2 separate regions of the Homo sapiens genome follow, and region 1 is linked to region 2. Evidence: fine-mapped expression QTL. A gene starts in region 2. The other region holds a variant in brackets. All regions are shown on one strand. Distances are from middle to middle. Region 1 has its middle 61 kb from the start of MIR4766. Region 2 holds the start of SLC25A17 (solute carrier family 25 member 17).

The links. PIP is the estimated chance that this variant, and not a neighbour inherited with it, causes the effect.
Region 1: its variant is fine-mapped to the expression of SLC25A17 in ovary (GTEx, PIP 0.95).

Annotation. Positions count from the first base shown.
Region 1 is chr22:40,746,444-40,759,162 of GRCh38, reverse strand. No RefSeq gene overlaps it. Among named protein-coding and RNA genes, the nearest start is that of MIR4766, 61 kb to the left of the region's middle. The variant A/G (reference allele first, on the strand shown) is at 7,194.
Region 2 is chr22:40,812,253-40,824,971 of GRCh38, reverse strand. SLC25A17 (solute carrier family 25 member 17) reads left to right here and starts at 5,626. Exons shown (of 9, transcript NM_006358.4): 1 at 5,626-5,777. The coding sequence starts at 5,724. ST13 (ST13 Hsp70 interacting protein) reads left to right here. Exons shown (of 12, transcript NM_003932.5): 12 at 1-437. MIR4766 (microRNA 4766) reads left to right here and starts at 11,014; the gene lies at 11,014-11,089. RefSeq lists an enhancer at 7,594-7,653.

The DNA.
Region 1 (12,719 bases), 66 kb after region 2:
AGCCTGGAGTGCAATGGCACGGTCTCAGATTACTGCAACGTCTGCCTCCCAGGTTCAAGCAATTCTCCTGCCTCAGCCTCCCAAGTAGTTGGGATTACAGGCACGCGCCGCCACGCCCAGCTAATTTTGTATTTTTTTTTTTAGTAGAGACGGCGGGGTTTCACCAGGTTGGTCAGACTCGTCTCGAACATGTGACCTCAAGTGATCCACCCGCCTTGGCCTCCCAAAGTGCTGGGGTTACAGGCATGAGCCACCACAATTGGCCCATATCATCTGAAATAAATGTGGTAACTATTGAGGCTTCCTGGTTATAGCTGACTAGAGCTCTCATTGGTCTATATTCCAGGAGCATTTGAGATATTAATTTATTTTACGAACACTTACTGAGTACATTTGTGCCAGTGACTGGCTAAAGCTGTAGCATACAGATATAAACACTGATTATTAATCTTTGTATATTTCTTTGTAGTTCATAAAACAATCTGGCATCCACCCTCTTATTTGGTGCTGCAGACCTCTGAGATGCAGTGGGCAGGTGATATCTCCATTTTATAGGTGTGGAGACAGGTTCCAAATTGTTAAATGACTCATTCATAGTCAAACAGCCAGTAACTGACAGAGCAGGACCAAACAGGTCTTCTAATTTCAAATGCCATCCTTTTTTCCACAACAGCATGCTGTCTTCCTAGAAGAGGTAAGCCTATTACTCTCGATACATATTATATGCCAAAGGACCCCAGGTTAAAAATATAGCCACTCGATGGTTGTGATTGTTTAGCTTAACAAGCAACTTAGCAAATAAGTTCAGAAGTTTGCCAGCACTATTTCTCTTTTCTCCAAAGATCAAAGGTAGATTCAGCATACAGTCAATGAAAGAAAATAAATTGGATTCTTTTTTAGTATTTGGTTGACCTTTACTAAGAATCTCTTTCCGCCGAGTGCGGTGGCTCACGCCTGTAATCCCAGCACTGGAGGTCAGGAGTTTGAAAACAATCTGGCCAACACGGTAAAACTCCATCTCTATTAAAAATACAAAAATTGGCCGGGTGTGGTGGCAGGTGCCTGTAGTCCCAGCTACTCAGAAGGCTGAGGCAGGAGAATCGCTTGAACTCAGGAGGCAGAGGTTGCAGTGAGTTGAAATCACGCCACTGCACTCCAGCCTGGGAGACAGAACAAGATGCCATCTCAAAAAAAAAAAAAAAGAATATCTTTCAAGGCTCAGTTCCTGCATCTTTTTCCTTGAGGTATGATTTATGCAGTAACACCCACGTTAAAAAGAGTAGGCCCATCATTTGAATTTCAAGTTTGGGTGAGGATGTCCGTAAGACAAAGGTCTCTGGAATGCTTTTTATTTTATTTTATTTTATTTTGGAGACAGAGTCTTGCTCTGTCACCCAGGCTGGAGTGCAGTGGCATGATTAAAGCTCATTGCAGCCTCAACCACGCAAGCGATTCACTCACCTCAGCCTCCCGAGTAGCTGGTACCACAGGCAAGTGTGACCCTGCCCAGCTAATTTTTTTTTTTTTTTTTGTAGGTGGGGTCTTACACTATATTGACTAGGCTGGGAGGTATGTATGTCTTTGTTAGTTTTTGGAACATAATACTCTGGGTGAAGCTCTGTCAAGCACCTTCAGCATTAAATTGTATTTATTTGTTTACTTACCTACCCGCTCAACCAAGTAGATTCAGAGCTCTGAATCCTCGTTAACATGGCTAAGTACCAGGCATTGCTATGAATATTCTGTAAATATTTGTCCATTGAGTTTATATTGAGGGGGGTGGGCTACAGTGTTGAGAAAGACATGGCTTCCCTAAGATTTAGTGCCTTAGAAATTTCACCATATTAAATACCATATGGTTGATGCACTCCTATCTTAGTCTGACTTGAATGAAGTGTGGGCGTGTCTAGGCAGAAGGAAGCTGAGAAATACATGCATGATCTCAGGAGCTTGTGAGTAGAAAAGGTACTGTGTAATAAAACAAGAATGCTAGCCTCAGTGGCTCACATCTGTAATCCCAGCACTTTGGGAGGCCAAGGCGGGTGGATCACATAAGGCTAGGAGTTCAAGACCAGCCTGGCCAACATGGTGAAACCCCATCTCTACTAAAAATACAAAAATCGCCAGGCGTGGTGGCATGCACCTGTAATCCCAGCTGCTTGGGAGGCTGAGGCACAAGAATCGCTTGAACCCGGGAGGTGGAGGTTTCAGTGAGCTGAGATCACACTACTGCACTCCAGCCTGGGAGACAGTGAGACTCTGTCTCATGAAAAAGGAAAACAAAACAAAACAAAACAGGAATGCTAGCCATGCTAGCCTGGGTAACATGGCAAGACTCCATCTCTACAAAAAATTAAAAAGAAAAATAGCCAGGCATGGTGGCATGTTTCAGCAGTCTGAGCTACTCTGGAGGCTGAGGTGGGAGGATCACTTGAACCTAGGAGTTTGAGGCTGCAGTGAGCTACGATCATGCCACTGCAGTCTGGCCTGGGTGACAGAGCGAGACCCTGTCCCTTAAAAAGACGTCAACAAATAATTTTTGAAGATCTGCCATGTGCCAGCCACTTTGCTAAGCAATAGGGATAAAATGTAAATGAGACAGACAAGATTCTTGTCTTATGGGATTTGCATTAGAATGGAAAGAGACAGACAATAAGCATATAAACCAGTAAAGTGATTTTAGACATACCTAAGAGCTATAAAGAACATAAACTAGGGAGAATTTTTTTTTTTCTTTTTGAGACGGAGTCTCGCTCTGTTGCCCAAGCTGGAGTGCAGTGGCACAATCTAGGCTCTCTGCAAACTCCGCCTCCTGGGTTCAAGCAATTCTTCTGCCTCAGCCTCCCGAGTAGCCAGGATTACAGGCGCCCAACACCATGCCTGGCTAATTTTTTGTATTTTTAGCAGAGACAGGGTTTCGCCATATTAGCCAGGCTGGTCTCAAACTCCTGACCTCAGGCAGTCCACCCACTGCAGCCTTCCAAAGTTCTGGGATTACATGCGTGAGCCACTGTGCCAGCCCCCAAGGCACAGTCTTAAGAGGTCCTAAGAACATGTGCCCAAGGTGGTTGGGTTACAGCTTGATTTTATATGTTTTAGGGAGACATAAGACATCAATCAATACATGTCAGCTGTACATTGGTTTAGCCCGGAAAGGTTGGGGAGGGGAGCTTACAGGTCCTAGGTGGATTCAAAGAGTTTCTGATTGGCAATTTGTTGAAAGAGTTATTATCTTAAGACTCAGAATCGGCCAGAAACAGTGGCTCACACCTGTAATCCCAGCATTTTGGGGGCCAAGAAGGGTGGATCACCTGAGGTCAGGAGTTTGAGACCAGCCTGCCAACATGGTGAAACCCTGTCTCTACTAAAAAAAAAAAAAAAAAAAAAAATTAGCTGGGTGTTGTAATGCATGCCTGTTGTAATCTCTGCTACTTGGGAGGCTGAGGCAGGAGAATTGCTTGAACCTTGGAGGCAGAGGTTGCAATGAGCTGAGATCCTGCCACTGCACTTCAGCCTGGGTGACAGCGACACTCTGCCTCAAAACAAAACAAAACAAAACACCTGGAATCAATAGAAAGGAGTATCTGGGTTTAGATAAGGGGTGGGTTGTGGAGACTAAAGTTCTTACTATATAGATGAAGTCTCACAGGTGGGTGCCCTTAGAGGCAATAGATGGCAAATGTTTCCTGTTTAGATCTCTAAAAGGTGCTAGATTCTGAACCAATCTCTTCAGGATCAGAAAAAGACCTGGAAAGGGGCCAGAATTCTCTAGAGAATGTAAATTTCCCCCACAAGAGACCACTTTGTAGGGTCATTTAGAAATGTCAAAGAAGGCCGGGCATGGTGGCTCATGCCTGTAATCCCAGCACTTTGGGAAGCCAAGGCAGGTGGATCATGAGGTCAGGAGATTTGGCTAACATGGTGAAACCCCATCTCTACTAAAAATACAAAAATTAGCCGGGTGTGGTGGTGGGCGCCTGTAGTCCCAGCTACTTGGGAGGCTGAGGCAGGAGAATGGCATGAACACAGGAGGCAGAGCTTTCAGTGAGCCGAGATCACGCCACTGCACTCCAGCCTGAGCAGCAGAGCGAGACTCCATCACTCTGTCTAAAAAAAAAAGAAATATGTCAAAGAAATATATTTTGGGGGTAAAATACTTTAATATTTTAGGGCCTGCTGGCTGTCATGTGATGCTATACTAGAATCAGGTTGGAATTTGGTATCTTATTGCTACAAAGAGTATGTTTTGTTGGCCTCAAGGTCCCTGTTTTAATGTTAATGCTGGGCAGCTGTGCCTGAATTCCAAGAGGAGAGTATAATGAGGCACGTTCAACACCTTTTTCCTATCATGGCCTGAAATGGTTTTTCAGGTTTACTTTGGAATCCCCTCGGCTGAGAGAAGGGGTCCATTCAGTTAATTGGGGGTCTTAGAATTCTATTTTTGGTTTGCATTAGTGTCACCCAACTAAGACAGTTTATATATTCTATTGCATTATATGTATGTAATTTCTTGTCTTGTTCCTGATCTTCGGGGAAAGCATCCTGTCTTTTGCCTTTGAGCATTAGCTATGGATTTTTCATAGAGTTCTTCCATTGTTTCTTTTTCCCTTTTTCTTTTTTTTTTAGAGACTGAGTCTTGCTTTGTCACCCAGGCTGGAGTGCAGTGACGCGATCTTGGCTCACTGCAGTCTCTGCCTCCTGGGTTCAAGTACCTCTCCTGCTTCAGCCTCCCAAGTAGCTGGGACGCGCCACCATGGCCAGCTAATTTTTGTATTTTTAGTAGAGACTGGGTTTCGCCATGTTGGCCAGGCTGGTCTCGAACTCCTGACCTCAGGTGATCTACCCACCTTGGCCTCCCAAAGTGCTGGGATTACAGGCGTGAGCCACCGTGCCCGGCTCCTGCATTGTTTCACTGCCTGCAAGCAGGCTCGGTAGGACTGAACTCCTACGCTGTACGCAGCACTGAATACGTGGCACTACATAAACAGATTGTTTTCCTAATCATAGTGGCAAGAGAGAAAAATTCCTAGGCAGATAGGGGCAGGTCCCTGGTGAAACCCAACCTTCAAGCCAAAGACAGCTTAAAGCCTGCAAACTGAGCTGCCAGTTCTGGGTAGAGTCCACAACCGGAGTGAGAACTTTCCTTGATGCCTTTTAGCCAATTGAATGGTGCTTTTTCCAGGCCTGCCCATAGACCAATCAGCATGTACGCCCCCATTCTGAGCCCATATAAACCGTGGACTCACCACACATTGGGCTACCCTCTTTCAGGCTCTCCTGTCACACAGGGCTACCCACTTCAGGTCCCCTCTCATTATCGAGAGCTTTTCTGTCACTCAATAACATTCTTCCCTGCCTTGCTCGCTCTCCAGTGTCTGCCTAACCTCATTCTTCTTGGTTGCAGGACAAGAACCTGGAACCCACCAAATGGTGGGTGCGCAAAGAGCTGTAACACTGTAGCTCTCCCTCCTGCTCGCCGAGCAAAGGGGGAGAAAAAGCCACTGTGCACCACATGCCCCCATTCACCAAGCTGCGGGCGACGGGACTGGAGGAGCTGTGACACAAATGAGCTGTAATACGCCCCCCATTCACCGTGCTGCAGGCAGCAGGAATGAGAGAGAGCTGCGTCATTTCTTGGGGACTCAAACCTTGGGACATCCCAGGCAAGAGCTATAACACCCCTTGGGGCTCCATGGTTGCTGGCATGTTCGTGTTTTCAGCCGCTACCGCGTTCCCCTCATCTAAAAGCTGGTGCCTAACATGAAAATGGTCCACAGCATGCCTGGCTCAGCTGCAGGCTGAGCACGGAATCCTTGCGCATGCACAGGATCTGGGTTGGTAGCCTGAGCTGAGCGCAGCCTGCCAGGGCGAGCTGGTGGAGTGAGCCCAGGAGTAAGCCCAGAGCCAAGCCAAGCCTGGACAGAGTTGCTGCCAGCCGTGGATGTTTCCAGGTGTCGAAGCGGCATCAAAATCATCCTGTGTCACTAACATCATTGCAATGCTACTTCTTTATGCACCAAAATGTTTTGACTTATTGCTTTGTTTTCTTTTAACCATTTTGTACAGAAATCATTCTCAAAAGCTAAACATCCTCGGTCACTTTCTTTTTTTTCTTTTTTCTTTTCTTTTTTTTTTTTTGAGATGGAGTTTCACTCTTGTTGCCCAGGCTGGAGTGCAATGGCGTGATCTCGGCTCACTGCAACCTCCGCCTCCTGGGTTCAAGCAATTCTCCTGCCTCAGCCTCCCGAGTACCTGGGATTAATGGCGCCCACCACTACGCCTGGCTAATTTTTTGTATTTTTAGTAAAGACGGGGTTTCACCACGTTGGCCAGGCTGGTCTCAAACTCCTGACCTCAGGTGATCCACCTACCTCGGCCTCCAAAGTGCTGGGATTACAGGCGTGAGCCACCGTACCCGGCCCATCCTTGGCCACTTTCAACATAACATAGGCCAGGCACAGTGGCTCATGCCTGTAATCCCAGCACTTTGGGAAGCCAACGTTGGGAGATTGTTTGAGCCCAGGAGTTTGAGACCAGCCTGGGAAACCTAATGAGACCTTGTCTCTACAAAAAAAAAAAAAATTTAATTAGCTGGGTGTGGTGGCACACATCTGTAGTTCCAGCTACTTGGGAGGCTGAGACAGGAGGATTACTTGAGCTCAGGAGGTGGAGGCTGCGGTGAGCTATGATCATGCCACTGCACTCCAGCCTGGGCAACAGAGTGAGTCCCTGTCTCCAAAAATAAAAATAAAAAATGAAAAATCAAATAAACATAATACATATCATTCAGTTTTTGCTTTAGCACTGGGACATCATTGTGATGTGTCACTCTGGTGGCACATAATGTGGGGATACTGTAACTGCCCAGTGGGTTCATCTTGCCCTCTGGCTAGGCAGAGCCAATTTATCAAGACAGAAATTGCAATGGAGAAAGAGTAATTCACGCAGAGCTGGCTGTGCAGGAGACCAGAGTTTTATTATTACTTAAATCAGCCTTCCTGAGCCTTCGAGGATCGGAGTTTTTAAAGATAATTTGTGGGGCACGGGCTTGGGAAGTGGGGAGTGCTGATTGATCAGGTTGGAGATGGAATCATAGGGAGTCAAAGTGAGGTTTTCTTGCTGTTTTCTGTTCCTGGGTGGGATAGCAGAACTGGTTGAGCCTTATTACAGGTCTGGGTGGTGTCAGCTGATCC[A/G]TGGAGTACAGGGTCTGCAAAATATCTCAAGCACTGATCTTAGGTTTTACAATAGTGATGTTATCCCGAGGAGCAGTCTGGGGAGGCTCAGACTCTTAGAGCCAGAGGCTACAAGACCCCTAAACTGTAATTTCTAATCTTGTAGCTAATTTGTTGGTCCTGCAAAGGCAGACTGCTCCCCAGGCAAGAAGGGGGTCTTTTCAGGAATGGGCTGTTAATAATTTTGTTTCAGAGTCAAACCATGAACTGAATTCCTTCCCAAAGCTAGTTCGGCCTATGTCCAGGAATGAACAAGGACAGCTTAAAGGTTAGAAGCAAGATAGAGTCAGTTAGGTCTGATTTCTTTCACTGCCACAATTTCCTCAGTTATAATTTTCCAAAGGCAGTTTCAATACCTTTGGGAACTTATTGGACGGCTTGTCCCTTCAAAGAACCACTCCAAACTGCTGTGTTTTTGCATTTCTGTATCTTTTTTTTTTTTTTTTAACAAATACATATTGTCCTGTTCCTAGCTGTTAATTAACACTTTTTCTGACCTTCACATGCCTGCGTCTGAGAACATTCTCTTCTAATAGGCAATTTCTAATTTGGTGAGACTGCCAAAGAGCCACAAAGTTTTTAGAAGTTTTTATAAAACAAGAGCAAGTACACTGAGGAGGACATTTTCCTATGAATAAAGTGCAATACCTTGTTTGGTGACTTAAACGCCTCTTATTTCCTAGGTTCTCAGCTCTGTTCTGGATGAATCACTGTCAGGTATACAGTATTATTATATCATAAATAAAATTATTTTTTAAGTCTTCTAGTCCTCTCCCCCTCACCCCACTCCCAGTTAACTAGCTTTTTGGCAGTTCTAGAACTGGGCAACAGAAGAGGTTGGCTTTATAGACAGAACAGCTAAAGAAAAACAGAGCAAGACCCTGTCTCAAAAAAACAAAGACAGAAAGCAGAAGCAAAGAGCAAAGAGCATATTGGTGATTTCAAAGCTATGTTTCTTATAAGGCAGGGACAGAGAGACAGAACAATAGAAAAATAACTGACTAGCAAACATCAAGCTACTTTTTTCCTGTAAGGACTAAAGCAGAGGGAACTTCATTATCATGCCAAATGAAGATTTAAACTGGCCTGTTTGGGAAATTATTTGTGATTTTGGGGAGGGTCAGTCAACTTGGTTTGGGTTTAGTGATGTGGAACTTTGGCATAGGTGAGTCCGTTTTGATTTTTGATCTTGTCCATTGGATCCAAGAGCAGAAACTTAGTCCAAAACAATAACATCCTGTAATTTTTATTTAATACATTTAATCACATAGATTCAAATGCATAATACAAAGATGGTCAGAATTACTAAAAGAAATTGACAGATCCGGCTCAGTGCAGTGGCTCACATCTGTAATCCCAGCATTTTGGGAGGCTGAGGCAGGTTGATACCTGAGGTGAGGAGTTCAAGACCAGCCTGGCCAACATGGAGAAACCCTGTCTCTACTAAAAATACAAAAATTAATTGTGCGTGGTGGTGCATGCCTGTAATCCCAGCTACTCAGGAGGCTGAGGTAGGAGAATCTCTTGAACCCGGAAGGCAGAGATTGCTGTGAGCTGAGATCGGGCCACTACATTCCAGCCTGGGAGACAGAGCAGGACTCCATCTCAAAAAAAAAAAAAAAGAAATCGACAAATCCACTAATCATGTGGAACTCTTAACATCTCTTTTTGAAAATTAGATAGGCTAAAGAATATTTGAGTAGTATCTTATAATTATTTACCTCTTTGATATGGTGATTCATAATAAGATATATATATTTGGTGTCTGTCCCTGGTTCCTGGCACACAACTCCTAAAACCCTTGGAGTCAGAGGAGTAATAAGAGTATCTTTTGTATGCTGATGAGGTGACTGATGGGGCTGGCAGCCCCTAGATAGCTTCAAGATGGGGGTTGGTCACCAGAAAGCCCAAGGTAGGATTAGAGGGTTGGGACTTTCAGTCCACACCCCACCCCCAACTTCCAGGGAGGAGAGAGAAAGTGGAGTTGATCATCAGTGGCCAATGATATAATCAGTTGTCATCCTGAAATAACCAAAAGCATCAGCATCCAGTTTTAGAGAGTATATTCAAGCAAAAAGCTGGGAACAGTCATCTGGGTAACATAGACTCCAGAGAAATGGGGTCAGTGCTCCAAAATTAAAAGTTAAGGTCTTGCTTGTATTGGCTGAAAATAAAGAAATTTAGTAGGATTATAACATTTTCTATATCAGACTGGTGTATGAGTTACAATTTAATTAGTTGCAGTTTATTTTCTTTTCCTTACAGCTTTCCTTTTCTTTACAACTTGTTTTCATTTCCTTTCCAATTCAAAGGTGTGTATTTGACACTCTATCTTAGATAATGTGATAGTCGCGGAGTCTTTGTGTGGGAAGGAAAAGAGGGAGGTTAATCTAAAATGAAAATCAACAGTTAAGAGGGAAGGGGTCCCTGATGCTCTTTAGTCATTTACAACATTTTACAAAACAATGTAGGTAAGGAAGAAGGCCACTCTATAATCAGAGAAACATAAGTTACAGCTGGCTGCCTAGGTTATAGCTGCCTGATTATGACACTCAGGTCCCATAATCACATTCCCTTAAGGTTCAAAATATTTTAAACTTCCAACTGACACAGGATTCTTTCAGTGCCACCTCACCAGCCAGAAATCTTCATGGCTGGGGGCACCCCTACCCGGGCCTCGCTTGGCTCCGGGCTCACCACTGGGCTTACTCTCCCCACTCAGTCCAGCAGGCTGTGCTTGGTTCATGCTACAAGCCCAGATTCTGCACCCGTCGTGGCTCTGCACTCAGCCCGCAGCTGGTCCAGGCATGTCATGACTGTCTTCCACCTTGGGCACCGGTGTCTGGACGAGGGGGACACAGCAGCACCTGAAAACTTGGAGATGCCAGCAACCACAGAGCCCCAAGGGGTGTTATGGCTCTCACCTGGGGAGTCCTGAGGTGTGAGCCCCCAAGGACTGTTAGAGCTCTCTCTCCTTCCTGCTGCCTACAGCACAGCAAATGGTGGTGGTGGGGAGCGTCTTACAGCTCATTCATGTTACAGCTTATGTTTGTTCCTGCCTCCCAGTGGCAAACGGGAGGACATGTTATGGCTCATTAGTTCCTGCCATCCACATGCTTCAGTGAACGGGGCGTCAATCCTGCTGCCCCACTCTGGCCTGAGGTTCCTGGGCTGCCCCAGCCCCACCGCCGCCTCTTCCTGTCACGTGGGATGGCCGCCCGACACTGGCAGAGGATGGGTGGGCTACAGTGTTACAGCTCCTTTCACACCCATGGTTCAGTGGGTCCCAGGTTCTTGTCTCATGTGCAAGAAGAATGAGGTTACATGGACACCAGAGAGTCAGCAGAGCAGAGAAGCTTTTATTGAGCAACAGAACAGCTCTCATCATGAGAGGGGACCTGAGGTGGGTAGCCCTCTGTGTAAGAGGGGGCCTGAAGGTGGGTAGTCCCAACATGTGGCTAAGTCCAGGGTTTTTATGGGCTCAGGATGGGGGCGTGCATGCTGACTGGTCCATGGGCAGGCCTGGAAAAAGCACCATTCGACTGGCTAAAAAGGCATTGAGGAAGTTCTTACTCCACTTGTGGACTCTATATGGAATGGGCAGCCCATTTTTCAGGCTGCAGGCTGTCTTTGGCTTGAAGGTTGGGTTTCACCGGGGACCTGTTTCTGTCTGCCTAGGAATTTGTCTGTCTCTTGCTGCTTTCACAATCACTTAGATTTTGAATTACTTATTTTCACACAATCGAGCCTACGTAATGAAGACTATAAAAACCTAAAATGGGCCAGGCATGGTGGCTCACACCTGTAATCCCAGCACTTTGGGAAGCCGAGGCGGGCAGCTCACCTGAGGTTGGGAATTCGAGACCAGCTTGACTAATGTGGAGAAACCCCATCTCTACTAAAAATACAAAATTAGCCTGGCGTGGTGGCACATGCCTGTAATCCCAGCTACTTGGGAGGCTGAGGCAGGATAATCTCTTGAACCCGGGAGGTGGAGGTTGCGGTGAGCCGAGATCGCGCCATTGCACTCCAGCCTGGGCAACAAGAGTGAAACTCCGTACCAAAAAAAAAAAAAAAAAAAAACTAAAATGATTAGATTCAGAGAGCTTCTGGATTGCAGAACATGTGGAGGTGTCTAGAGGGTGGTGTGCCCAGAGATGGCCTGAAAGTTCATCCCCCTCCCTCATGCCTTGCCCTATGTATCTCTTTCATCATGCTGTTCATCTGTATCCTTTGTAATATCCTTTATAAAATAAATGTGTACATGTAAATGATTTCCCTGAGCTCTGTGAGCCACTCTAGAAAGTTAATCAAACTCAAAGAGGGGGTGGAGGGGAGCCCTGATTTATAGCCAGCCAGTGAGAAGATCAGGTTACAACCTGAGGGTTGCAATTGACCTCTGAAGTGACAGGCAGTCTTGTGGAACTGAGCACTCAATGTGTGAGATGTGATGTTATTGAATTGGAGGACACCCAGCTGTTGTCCACGGGAGACTCTGCTAAAGAATTGCTTGGGCCAGGCACAGTAGCCCATGCCTGTATTCCCAGCACTTTAGGAAACTGAGGCAGGTGGATCACCTGAGGTCAGGAGTCCGAGACCAGCCTGGCCAACATGGTGAAACCCCCATCTCTGCTAAAAATACAAAAATTAGCCAGGCATAGTGGTGCACGCCTGTAATTTCAGCTACTCAGGAGGCTGAGGCAGGAGAATTGCTTGAACCCTGGAGGCAGAGGTTGCAGTGAGCTGAGATTGTACTACTGCCCTCCAGCCTGGGTTACAGAGCAAGACTGTCTAAAAAATAATAATAATAATAATTGCTTGGTTATATGTGGGAAGAAATCCCTGTACATTGAGAATGAGAAGTAGCTTAGAGCAGTCTGAGCTATGTGAGGTTTGCAAAATGTATCACACCCAGCGAGTCATGAGTATACTTCAGTCACACATACATACCTGCACCCAGGCAATTGTTTAAAAGCATTTTCTTCTTTCTTTCCTTACCTGTAGTTTCCAGACTAGCTGATAAATGACCTAAAATGTTATCACAAGTTGCAGAATGTGACCCTTACCCATTATCTTCATGTTCCTAGAATTTGTGATACAAAAAAAAAAATGTATAGCCAATCAATAGCTTATGTTATTTTAATGAACCAGTGTAAGAACTACCCCTTCTTTTTTCCTTTAAAAACCCATGTATAGCTGCTGCTAATTGAAGCATATATTCAGGGCAACTTGAATCTATGTCTTCTGGGTTGCAGTCTTCAAATTTGGCCCAAACAAACCCTACTTAAAACAAACAAACACCCGTCTCCCTCTCCCGTCTCCCTCTCCCTCTCCCGTCTCCCTCTCCCGTCTCCCTCTCCCTCTCCCGTCTCCCTCTCCCTCTCCCGTCTCCCTCTCCCTCTCCCGTCTCCCTCTCCCTCTCCCGTCTCCCTCTCCCTCTCCCGTCTCCCTCTCCCTCTCCCGTCTCCCTCTCCCTCTCCCTCTCCC
Region 2 (12,719 bases):
GTGAAGTAAATTCTATGGAGTACATTTCTAAAATACCACATTTCTGAAATCATAAATAAGTTTATTCAGGTTCTAACCCTTTGCTGTACACAAGCAGACAGAAATGCATCTGTTACATAAATGAGAAAAAGCTATTATGCTGATGGAGCATGCTTTTTAAATCCTTTAAAAACACTCACCATATAAACTTGCATTTGAGCTTGTGTGTTCTTTTGTTAATGTGTAGAGTTCTCCTTTCTCGAAATTGCCAGTGTGTACTTGGCTTAACTCAAGAACAGTTTCTTCTGGATTCCTTATTTGATTTATTTAACCTAATTATATTCTAATATTGCAAATATTACCATAAGTGGGTAAAAGTAAAATTCCTCTTCTGAAAATGTGTCCTGTGCTTTTAGATTTTTAAATTCCATAATATACATTCTTAATTTTCAACTCAATATTCTAAACCAGAAATGTTTTCTTGTACTGATGCTATCAGAAGGAAGTTTTTTCTGCTTAAAAATATAGTTATATTTCTAGCTGTCTTTAAAATACGGTTTCAAACTAGATATTGGGCAGGTGCGGTGGCTCACGCCTGTAATACCAACACTTTTGGGAGGCCGAGGCGGGCAGATCGTCTGAGGTGAGGAGTTCAAGACCAGCCTGGCCAACATGGCGAAATCCCGTCTCTACTAAAAATACAAAAACTAGCCAGGCATGGTGTTGGGCACCTGTAATTCCAGCTACTCGGGAGGCTGAGTCAGGAGAATCACTTGAACCTGGGAGGCAGAGGTTGCAGTGAGCTGAGATCACGAAACACAGTCTCAAAAAACAAAAACTAGTTTTTAATTTCCCCCCCCACCCCCGACTTTTTGTAGCATATGTTCTATTTTATGTCTCTGGTACTCAGGTTATTTACTAGGTATATTAGGCTGCAGACTATTAAGTGCTGCAAACAAGAACCCCTAAAAAACATGTACTTTATTTTGGGTAGCTGTTCAGAGGCAGGCATTCTGCCATACTTAGAAGGTAGCTTCCATTTCTAGTCCAAAGTTGCTTGCTCTGGTGCTCATTCTCCAATTGAGGAAATAGGAGAAGGGGGCTCTGGGAAACACGCTGAGATACTGAAGATAATATATGATGTTAACATTTTATTACTTCTAATATCCCATTGGTCAGTTTGTGTGTTCAGGCTATGTTTAGCTGCAGGGAAAGCCAGTTTGTCATCCATAACTGTGTGATCACATGCTCAAGAAAAAACTTAAGAGTAGAAACAGGAAAGACGACTTGGGGTGACACCTAGCAGTCTACCATACTAGGAAATACTAGTTTGATAAGATAAAGGAGAAACAATTTCATTTTAGAGATTTGCTGATGACTAAAATTAATGCACCTGAGTAGGCACAGGTAAGTAGTGTTTGTGCCAAGCCCTGTTATAATCAGTTTGCAAGTATTGGATCAATTCTGATAATGACCATAAGGGTAGATACTGTTAGCACCACTTTACAATTTTATAGATAAGGAAACTGAAGCACTTAATAAGTAAATTGCCCAGGATAACACAGCTGATTATTTGTAAAGCTGAGATTCTTGAATACAGAGGTTTGTGGCTTCAAAGGGCTTTCTCCCAAACTCTGTACTGTGCTGCCTCTGTGTACAAGGTTGATTCTTGCAGAATTGTTTAAGGAACTGAAAACTAAAATGTACATTTGAATAAGGTTGGTTAAATAAGGAGTGTCACACACTTGATGTGCTGATGTGTACATCCAGGGGGTTTCTTCCTAATAGTAAGGGACACAGCATAATTGAAGTGCATGACGAGCCCCCAAATAAGGGCAAGAATAAACTAAGTAAAAATTATAGTACAGTAATTATAAAAAGTTCAATATGTGCCAGTATTTACAACCAGTATATAATGTACTTAATAGAGCTCATACAGTTTGGAGAGGAAAATGTCCTAAAGTAAATAGGCAACAAAAGTGAGTAACTGAGCTTTAAAAAGCAAATTTAAATAGTATGTCAAGTTGGCAATTTTTCAGTGAGACCTTTCATATAGTGCTGGTGGAAGTGTAAGTTTATGGTTTTCTATAAAGTTGTTTAGCAATAAATAAAAACTTTGACGTTTGGTGAAATCCTAATTTTAAAATTACGGCTCTAAGAAGCCAGGAGGTAAGTAGAACTAATGTAAATGTCTGTGGTGCTCTGAAAATCTAGGCATCTAATACATAATTAAGTAGTTTACTCACACAGATCACTGGGACATTTTTAGATTGCAGGGTAAGTAACCTGACCATACTTAAGCCAGTGTAAAAGCAACATACACGAAATGGCAAGTACTAGCTAGGTTCCTTTAATTCTTATAGCATGGGTGTATATAGAATGGCCCTAAATTTTTTATATACTTTATGTAGTGTCAAGGGGTATGATGCTTATATAATTCAAAGGACCCTCTTTAAGGAAAAGAATGTAATTATGAACACTAAATTGGACACACAAGTAGATACTTGTTTAGAACGAAAAAAGCAGCCAAAAATTACAATCCTTAGGTTTTTTGAAACAGAATCTTTCTCTGTTGCCCACACTGGAGTGCAGTGATGCAATTGCAGCTCACTACAGCCTTGACCTGGGCTCAAGCAATCCTCCCACCTCAGCCTCCCAAGTAGATGGGACTGCAGGCATGCACCACCATGCCCATCTGTTTGTTTTTAACAGCAATGAGGTCTTACTTTGTTGTCCAGGCTGGTCTGGAACTCCTGGTTTCAAATAATCCTCCTGCCTCAGCCTCCCAAAGTGCAGGGATTACAGGCATGACCCCCTGTGCTCAACTAAGTTATAATTTTTAAAAATTATGTCTCAACCGGGCACGGTGGCTCACGCCTGTAATCCCAACACTTTGGGAGGCCAGGGGGTGGGGGGGGGGGTGAGGTCAGGAGTTCGAGACCAGCCTGGTCAACATGGTGAAACCCTGTCCCTAAAAAGTACAAAAATTAGCCAGGCGTGGTGGTGCATGCCTATAGTCCTAGCTACTCGGGAGGCTGAGGAAGGAGAATTGCTTGAACCTGGGAGGCAGAGGTTGCAGTGAGCTGAAGTTGCGCCATTGCACTCCAGCCTGGGCGACAAGAGCAAAACTGTCTCAAAAAAAAAAAAATATATATATATATATACGTATATGTGTGTATATATATATATATATATATATACGTATATATACGTATATATATATACGTATATATATATATATACGTGTATATATATATGTATGTATGTGTGTGTCTCGAACATCACAGCTTCATAGTTCCAGTTAATAACTGATGTAGCTATGCAGTGTCTACGTTTTTCAGTGCATACTGATTATATGAAAATGACTTTGGCTGGGTGCAGTGCTCACACCTCTAATTTGAGCACTTTGGGAGGCCGAGGTGTGTGGATCACCTGAGGTCAGGAGTTCGAGACCAGCCTGGCCAACATGGTGAAACCCTGTCTCCACTAAAAATACAAAAATGAGCCAGGTATGGGGGCGTGCACCTGTAGTCCCAGCTACTCGGGAGGCTGAGGCAGGAGAATCACTTGAACCCGGGAGATGGAGGCTAACATGAGTCAAGATCGCGTCACTGCACTCCAGCCTAGGTGACAGAGCGATACTCCGTCTCAAAAAAAAAAAAAAAAATACTGTTTTCAGTATGTCAGTCTTCAGTTGATCATGCTGGGCGCTGTGGCTCACACCTGTAATCCCAGCACTTTGGGAGGCCGAGGCGGGCGGACCACGAGGTCAAGAGATTTGAGACCATCCTGACCAACATGATGAAACCCCGTCTCTACTAAAAATACAAAAATTAGCTGGGCGTGGTAGCGCATGCCTGTAATCCCAGCTACTCGAGAGGCTGAGGTAGGAGAATCACTTGAACCCGGGAGGCGGAGGTTGCAGTGAGCCAAGCCTGGGCCACAAGAGTGAAACTCCATCTGAAAAAAAAAAAAAAGGTTGCAAGGCCCGGTACAGTGGCTCATGCCTGTAATACGAGCACTTTGGGTGGCTGAAGCAGGTGGATCACTTGAGCCCAGGAGTACAAGACCAGCCTGGACAACGCAGAGAAACACTGTCTCAGGTTTAAAAAAAAAAAAAAGCTGATCAAAATGTTTTTGGTATGTAAGATACAAAAACGTCAAAACAAAGTATTAACAATGTTTTCATAACTATGATGCATAATCCAGTATATTCTTGACAGCAAGCTCCCAATTTGATCAGGAGTCAATGAGAACTGAGTTCTCAAGTTTTACAGCCAACTAGTTTCTATGTTCCCATGCCAAAATAATCTTTTTTTTTTTTTTTTTAGGAGTCTCACTCTGTCCCAGGCTAGAGTGCAGTGGTGCAATCTTGGCTCACTGCAACCTTTGCTTCCTGGGTTCAAGCGATTCTCCTGCCTCAGCCTCCCTAGTAGCTGCAGTTTCAACATTGTAATTTCTACAAGGCGCGTGCCACCATGTCCGGCTAATTTTTTCTATTTTTAATAGAGACAGGGTTTTGCCATATGGGCCAGGCTTGTCTCAAACTTCTGACCTCAAGTGATCTGCCCGCTACGGCCTCCCAAAGTGCTAGGATTACAGGCCTGAGCCGCTGCGCCCAGCCCAAAATCATCTTCGCTTCACTTTTGGTCCTTCACTTTCACGTCATGATTCTATGGCGTGATGGGAATGTTCCTGGAAGCAGTATCTTCTGCAAATTTTGTGAAAACGGCCAGGTTAAACTTTGTTAGACCCCTCTCCCAGGGATTAAGTGTGATGATGGGCATAAAACACTAAGCCTGGCATGTAGTCAGCACTGAGGAGTTATCACGAGGATATTCTAAAAGGAAACATGGTAAAGACAAGTGGTGATGGTGTCTCAGGAAAGAATCCCTGAGTCCCTGAGGAGCATCCTGAAGCAGAATCTCACAGTATGACAGGTTAAAGCTGAATGTGGCTGCTTTAGTTTTGTGTAATTTTGTTAGTCACTTTGCAACATGGAAAAAAATTTTTTTCCTTCAGTATTTTATGAAGTACTACTACATAAATTGGCTTTCGTAATCCTCACAGCAGATGGGGATTGTTGGTACTAGTACATTGTCATTTCACAGAGGAAACCCAAGAGGTTAAATGACTTCCATAGTTGCCAACTAGGGGGAGGCTCCCACTCGCGTCTTGTATTTTGGGCTCCTGATGCTCAACATCTCTTCCCACCACACTCAAGGGTTTTTCTGGAGGAAGAAGTTTCCAAGTCCACAAGTGAGTTTTTTTCCTCTTGGCCAAAATGTGACTTTCAGAATAGAAAAGAGCTCAGGCGCAGAGAAACAGGGAGACTGGAGTCTCATTGAGTTTCCCCATCTTTGTCACCAGAGTAAAAGAAGGCCATTAAGACTTCTGAGATGGAGGAACTGGTCAGGGCCCGGGAACGCCAGAGAACGTCGGAGGAACCGGGAGCCGGGTACCTGGTGTCAGGCCGCCTTGCGCCTTGGAGCCCAGCCCCGCGAACACCTCGCTGTCCCGCCCCGCGCCCACAGGGGCCAATCAGCGTTCAGGGGCGTTCTTAGCCGCCCCCCCCCCCCCGCTTTCCCGCCCCGCGACCCGGAAGTGGTTCTAGGGCAGGCGGGCGGGTTTGAGAGGGCGGGGATTGCGACTCTCACACCCTGAGCTCCGGTGCTCCTTTCCTAACTCCACTGGCTGCGGCATCTGTGGGAAAAGTGTGGCTGGGTCTTCGAGGAGCCGCACCAATGGCTTCCGTGCTGTCCTACGAAAGCCTGGTCCACGCCGTGGCCGGAGCCGTGGTGAGACGGGGTCTTTACGCCCGGGCCGCAACGGGTTATAAGGCTTCTCGGGGGCCAGTCCCGGGATATGCCTGAGGGATGGGTCTGAGAGGGAGGTAGTGTGGGTTGGGGTCCACTGTCATGACTGTGGGGCAGAGAGGAATGGGCCATTGGCGGAAAGTTGTTGGAGGAATTCGGGGTAAGGGCCGAGACTCCGCCACCTCCTGGTCTCCTAGAGACTGCGGGGTAGAGAGCCGTGTTCACACGTGCCCGCTCAGGGTCCGCATCTTTGCCGTGGGAAGTTTAAGGTCAGGCTACCACCGCACACTCACACACTTTGCTTTACTGGCCCGGAGGAGAACGTAGGTGTGAAGCCGTGTTGCTTAGTCACATGCTTCCCTACAGCCTGTCTTCACGCTTGCCGCGGGCAAGTGGCAATACCTAGTAGGATAGCTCTGGGCACCGTTATTGGCAGGAGAAGATAGATCCTTTTTTTTTTTTTTTTTTTTCCGGACAGGGTCTTGCTCTGTTGCCCAAGCTGGAGTGCAGTGGCGCGATCACGACTCACTGCAGCCTCGATCTCCCGGGCTCCAGCGATCCGCCCACCTCAGCTTCCTGAGTAGCTGGGACTGCAGGTGTGAGCCACCACACCCGGCTACATTTTTAAAAAAAATTTTTGGGGTCTGGCAGTGTTGCCCAGGCTGGTCTCGAATTCCTGGCCTCAAACGATCCTCTCGATTTGGCGTCCTAAACTGCTGGCATGAGCCACTGTGCCTGGCTTTTTTTTCTTTCTTTCTAAATCAAGATCTGGGTTCCTGTCTACCACAAGTGTGGTTTGTTATGAGGTATACGCTTGATTCTTGGGCTTCTGGTGTCTAGGTTCCACTTGACACTTCCCCTCTCCCCTCTTTTCCTTAAAACTTTCCACTTTTGGCTTGGGTGACTCCTCTTGTGGTTCTTTTATCTCTTTGACTGCCTTTTCTCATATTCTTCACCAGTTGTTAGCACACACCTTTAGCTGTTAAAATCACTGTGACTTCAGAGGAACATCACTGAATCCTCTGTTTAGCCTCCAGAAACTTCACTGAGAGCTCACCTTCTCTGTAGACTAATCTGGATTTAACCCTAACTCCATCATTTGTTAGCTAGATGCCCTGTAAACCTTACTTTCTTAATCTGTAAAGTGGGGGAAGTGATACCTACCTCACAGAGTTTAGAGAATTAAGTGACACAGCATTTCATGAAAATGCCTAATTCAGGAAGCCTGGTTCATTCAGTTCAGCCAGAAGAGCCTTTCAGCCAGCATGAAGGCTGAGATGGACGCTTGCGTGACTTGCTTTAAGATGGGCATGGAGGCCTGTGTTTCCGGAGTGGAGGGAACAAAGAGGCAAATAGGTTTCAGGGGGCCAAATTGTGTGAGACTTTCACTCTGGCTAGCTGTTGAACTTGCTGATTTACCTTTAAACGTGATCACCCTGGCTGCTGTGTTGAGAGTAGAATGTAAGGGAACAGGGGACAAGCAATTATCAGGCGAGAGATGATGGTGACTTGGATCCGGGTGGTAGCAGACATGGTAGAAGTGATCATTGACCTGGAATATATTTATAAAATGAGGGTTGGTTGACTCCAAGAGTTTTTGGCTTCAGTAACTGGAGGGATGGTGGTATTTACTGGGATGGCAGAGGCTGTGAAGGAGAAGGTTTTGGGGGAAATGATAAATTTGGCTTTGGTTTTGGAGGAGTTTGAAATGCCTAAGAGTAGTCGTGAGACTAGATGAGCTCACTAGGGAAGTGTGTATGGACTGACAGAAGAATCTCAATGACTGAGTCTTGGAGCAGGCTAACCATTAAGAGGCCGAGAAAATAAGATTGCACCAGCAAAGGAGACAAACGAAGGATGGATCAGTACTGCAGGAGGGAAGCTAAGAACTAAGAGTGAAAGCCACGTGAAGAAAGTGTTTCTGGGGAAGGAAGTAGACCAGCTGGGTCAGATGCTGCTGATGGGTCAAGTAAGGTGAGGACTGAGAAATAACTGAGAATTTATCATGTTGATAAATCCAGTGGTTAATTGAAAAGACCAGTTTTGGTGGAGTGGTGGGGGAAATAGTTGGAGTGCATCTAAGAGAAGAAAGTGAGAAGATGGGAAATGTTTTTCTCTTCCTTCTTGCAATAAATGTTCATTAAACACCTTTATTGAGTGCATTCTATGTGCCACACGCTGTTCTAGGTGCAAGGAGTACAGTAGAGAAGGTCTTTTTCTTCATGAACTATGCATTGCAATAGGGGAGTCAGACAATAAATGAATAGGCTGGGTGCGGTGGCTCACGCCTGTAATCCCAGCACTTTGGGAGGCTGAGGCAGGCGGATCGCCTGAGGTCAGGAGTTCGAGGCCAGCCTGGCTAACATGGTGAAACCCCGTCTCTACTAAAAATACAAAAAGTAGCCAGGCATGGTGGTGGGCGCCTGTAATCCCAGCTACTCGGGAGGCTGAAGCAGGAGAATCACTTGAACCTGGGAGGCAGAGGTTGCAGTGAGCCAAAATTGTGCCATTGCACTCCAGCCTGGGTGACAAGAGCAAGACTCCGTCTCAAGAAAAAAAAAAAAAAACAATAAAAAATAAATGAATAAATAAAAAATAAGTAGAATAATTTTAGATACAGTTAAGTGCTATAAAAGAACATAGAGATTGGCAAACTTTTTAAAGAGAGCAGATGGGAAATATTTTAGGCTTTGTGTACCGTTGTCACAGCTACCCAACATTGCCATGGTCGTGTGAAATCAGCTGTAGACAGTAAATGAATGGACAGAGCTGTGTTCCAATAAAATACTGTTTTCAAAAACAGATATTAGATTGGATTTGGCCCATAGGCCATAGTTTTCTGACTCCTGCTATAGAGAGAGTGACTGGCAATAGTGGTAATATATTTCTATTTAATCTACAAAGATACTTCTTTTTTTCACTTGTTGCCTATTTTTCTCTTTTTTTCTTTTTCTTTCTTTCTTTCTTTTTTTTTTTTTGAGATGGAGTTTCGCTCTTGTTGCCCAGGCTGGAGTGCATGGAGTGCAGTGATGCAATCTCGGCCCACCACAACCTCCGCCTCCTGGGTTCAAGCGATTCTCCTGCCTCAGCCTCTCGCCGAGTGGCTGGGTTTACAGGCATGTGCCACCACGCCTGGCTAATTTTGTATTTTCAGTAGAGACGGGGTTTCTCCATGTTGGTCAGCCTGGTCTTGAGCTCCCGCCCTCAGGTGATCCGCCTGCCTTGGCCTCCCAAAGTGCTGGGATTACAGGCGTGAGCCACTGCGCCTGGCCTGGAATTACTTTTCTAACTTTGTTTATGCCTGAATCAAAAACGATTAATGAAATTATATCGTCATACATAGTATTGTATAACTTAATTTTTTAAGAAGCAAATATGGCATAATAGCTGAAAAAAAAGGTTCTGTAGTAAAGCTTAACTATGAATGCCATCATCAATCGAACTATAAAACAGGGACAATAACAATGCCTCACTTAACTGGGTTCTTGTGGGAAGTAAATGTGATTATATTTGTGGAGCATCTAGCATAATGGAACGTTGTAGTAAGACCATAATTATTCATTTCTGTCTCAAGTATATTCTTGCAAATACAGCACTTATACCTAGTTTTAGAAATTTAAGGGAATTGAAATGTTCTCTTGCCTCATGGCCATCTCCACCCATTCCCTTCACTTGTTGCAGATGATCTTACCTTTTACTCTCTAGATAAAATAGAACCTACTTGGGATGAGTTTTTTCAGTTTTTTCCAATTACAGTTGTACTCGTGTTTTCTACATTCTGCTGGTCTCAGAGGAAAAATAGACATATTCAGTGTCTGCTACCTTCAATCTTTGTCCTCCCCTCCAGCCCATGGCCAGTTTTCTTCCAGGACTTTGCTCCAGTAATTTTCATCTCTTTCCTATAGCTTTAACCTAGTATCTGCTTCTGTTCAGCCCTCAAACATGGTCAGGTCTGTCCCATCAGAAAACTATACCAATCTGATCTGGAATCTGGTAGCTTCTTCAGCCTCTGCCTGTTCTCTTTCCCTTTGTGCTAAGCTTATTTAAAGAATATTCTGGGCCGGGTGTGGTGGCTCACACCTGTAATCCCAGCACTTTGGGAGGCTGAGGCGGGCAGATCACGAGGTCAGGAGATCGAGACCATCCTGACTAACACGGTGAAACCCCATCTCTACTAAAAATACAAAATATTAGCCGGGCATGGAGGCAGGCGCCTGTAGTCCCAGCTACTCGGGAGGCTGAGGCAGGAGAACGGCATGAACCCGGGAGGTGGAGCTTGCAGTGAGCCAAGATTGCGCCACTGCACTCCAGCCTGGACGACAGAGCAAGACTCCGTCTCAAAAACAAAAAAAACCAAAACAAAACAAAACAACAACAACAACAACAATATATATATATATATATATATATATATATATATATTCTGCACGTACTGCCTTTCCTCATCCTACTTTGACCACTGGAACTGTTCTTCCAAAGGTCAACTCTGACTTCCTAACAGCTTAATCTACTATTGTGAATGGTTTAAGGTCATGGATAACCAGGTACACACACATTTGTGTCTTTTCACAATGTCAGACTTTTATTGTGTTATTTCAGTTATAAAAGACAAGTTACATGGAGTTCTCAAGGAGGCAATTTTTATTAGTACTTCTCATTCACTAGGTAGTCAGTCAATATTGTAAATCATATATAATAGTATACCTAATTAATACATAAATGATGTAGATTAAACATTCTGCAACAAAGTAACATTGAACATCAAGAGAAAAGGGTGAGGAAAAAGGGTTACCTAACCAGTCCGGGGAGAGTGATATAGACAAGTATCCTGGTTTCATCATGGCAGTGTGTTGGTCTTGTAAGAAAGAATCCTTGATGTGGGCAGAGCCTTTGGACACAGATATCAGGCTTTTATAACAAGTGACAGCAAGACAGTGTCTGTTAAGACCATTTTGAGTTTTTTAAGTCCTGTTCTTTTTATGGTCACAGAGTCTTCTGGTAAGGACTGATAGTGGAAGAGCATGCTTGGTTGTGTCTTTATCTGGAAAAACATCTGGTCCCTGTTGTCAAAGTGCTTTTTGAAATGAAAGATAGGAGTCTTTTTCTAAGATGGAGTTACTTATGTCAAGAGTGCTCTATACATCTACTGACTGTTTTTGCATTCTTAATTGATTCCAGTTCTTTGTAAGTATTCTATACTGTTGACCCTTCTACCTTTCTGAAGCTCCTTCTGAAAGAGCAGTTGGTGTTTATTTTTTACTAAATAGCAATTGCTCTTTTGGAAGGAACTTGAGAAGACATTACTCCTTTTAGGGCCCTAAAATTAACAGTGGTTTCTACTACTAACAGATACTATAGCTATAAAGGACATGTAGAAACCAACAATTGTTGAGTGCCACCTGTGTGCCTGGTATGATGCTAGGTGCCAACCATAATTTTTTGTTTTTGTTTTTGAAACTCAGTCTCGCTCTGTCGCCCAGGCTGGAGTGCAGTGGCGTGATCTCGGCTCACTGCAAGCTCCGCCTCCTGGGTTCACGCCATTCTCCTGCCTCAGCCTTCCGAGTAGCTGGGACTACAGGTGTCTGCCACCACACCCGGCTAATCTTTTTGTATTTTTAATAGAGAGGGTATTTTTTTTTTATACAGAGTCTCGCTCTGTCACCCAGGCTGGAGTGCGGTGGCACGATCTCGGCTTACTGCAACCTCTGCCTCCCAGGTTCAAGTGATTCTCCTGCCACATCCTCCAGAGTACCTGGGACTACAGGTGTGTGCCACCACTCCTGGCTCATTTTTGTATTTTTAGTAGAGATGAGGTCTCACCGTGTTGGCCAGGCTGGTCTCGAACTCCTGACCTCAAGTGATCCACCCACCTCAGCCTCCCAAAGTGCTGGGATTGCAGGTGTGAGCCACCATGCCCAGCTACTTTCCATAATTTGATTCTAACTTCTCATAGCAACCTTGACAAATACCGGTCTCAAAATTACAAATGAGGAAATTGAGACATAGAGATTTGAAGTTACTTATGTAATATATACTATACTTGGGACGTAAACCTATATTTTATCCCTAAACACTCGAGAGTGTCATCCATGAGGCCATTTGTGTAACTTGCCTATCTGTCTGTGTATGTATGAGTTAGCTTGATTGTTATGTCAGGGAAAAGACTTACATTAACTCTGATGAGGTGAATAACATTTTTAAATATGAAAGCCATTGTAAGTGGCTTTTAATCTTTAGAATTTTATTAGCTCAAACCACAGAAAACATCTTAGGTGGTTTTTAAAAATTTTTTTAAATTTTTATTTGTTTTGAGACTAAGTCTCACTGTGTTTCCCAGGCTGGAGTGCTGTGGGATGATCACAGCTCACTGCAGCCTCAATCTCCTGAGCTCAAGCCATTCTCCCACCTCCTAAAGTGCTGGGATTGCAGGTGTGAGCCACCGTGTCTGGCTTTAAAATAATCTTTCTGTTCTATAATGCAGTGTTCTAAATCAGGAGAGGCTATACATTGATTTCAGTGGTGCTGCTGTGACTCAGCCACGTCGGGACCCCTCTGGAAACTGATTTTGGACTAGCATTGTCTTTTTTACCCCCACCACTAGTTTTCACCCTGCTAGGATGAATCAACATTTTAGAAACAGTCAGTCACATTTGGTGATTTGGTTGGTATACCAACCCAAACATCATTGTTTTATGCTTAAAAGGCATGAAAATATGCTTCTGTATTTATGTATGTTCTTATCTATTATTCCCATAAGATTGCACACGCTGGGGGGACCAAGTCTTGACCAGATTTACCCAGTGTTTCATTCTTACTCTATCTGTAAGCCCAACTTCATATGTGGATTGTGTTGACCAAATTAAAAAGTATACTTTAGATATTTACAGGAGAGATATAGCCCAGAATGAATAAACCATCTTTTTT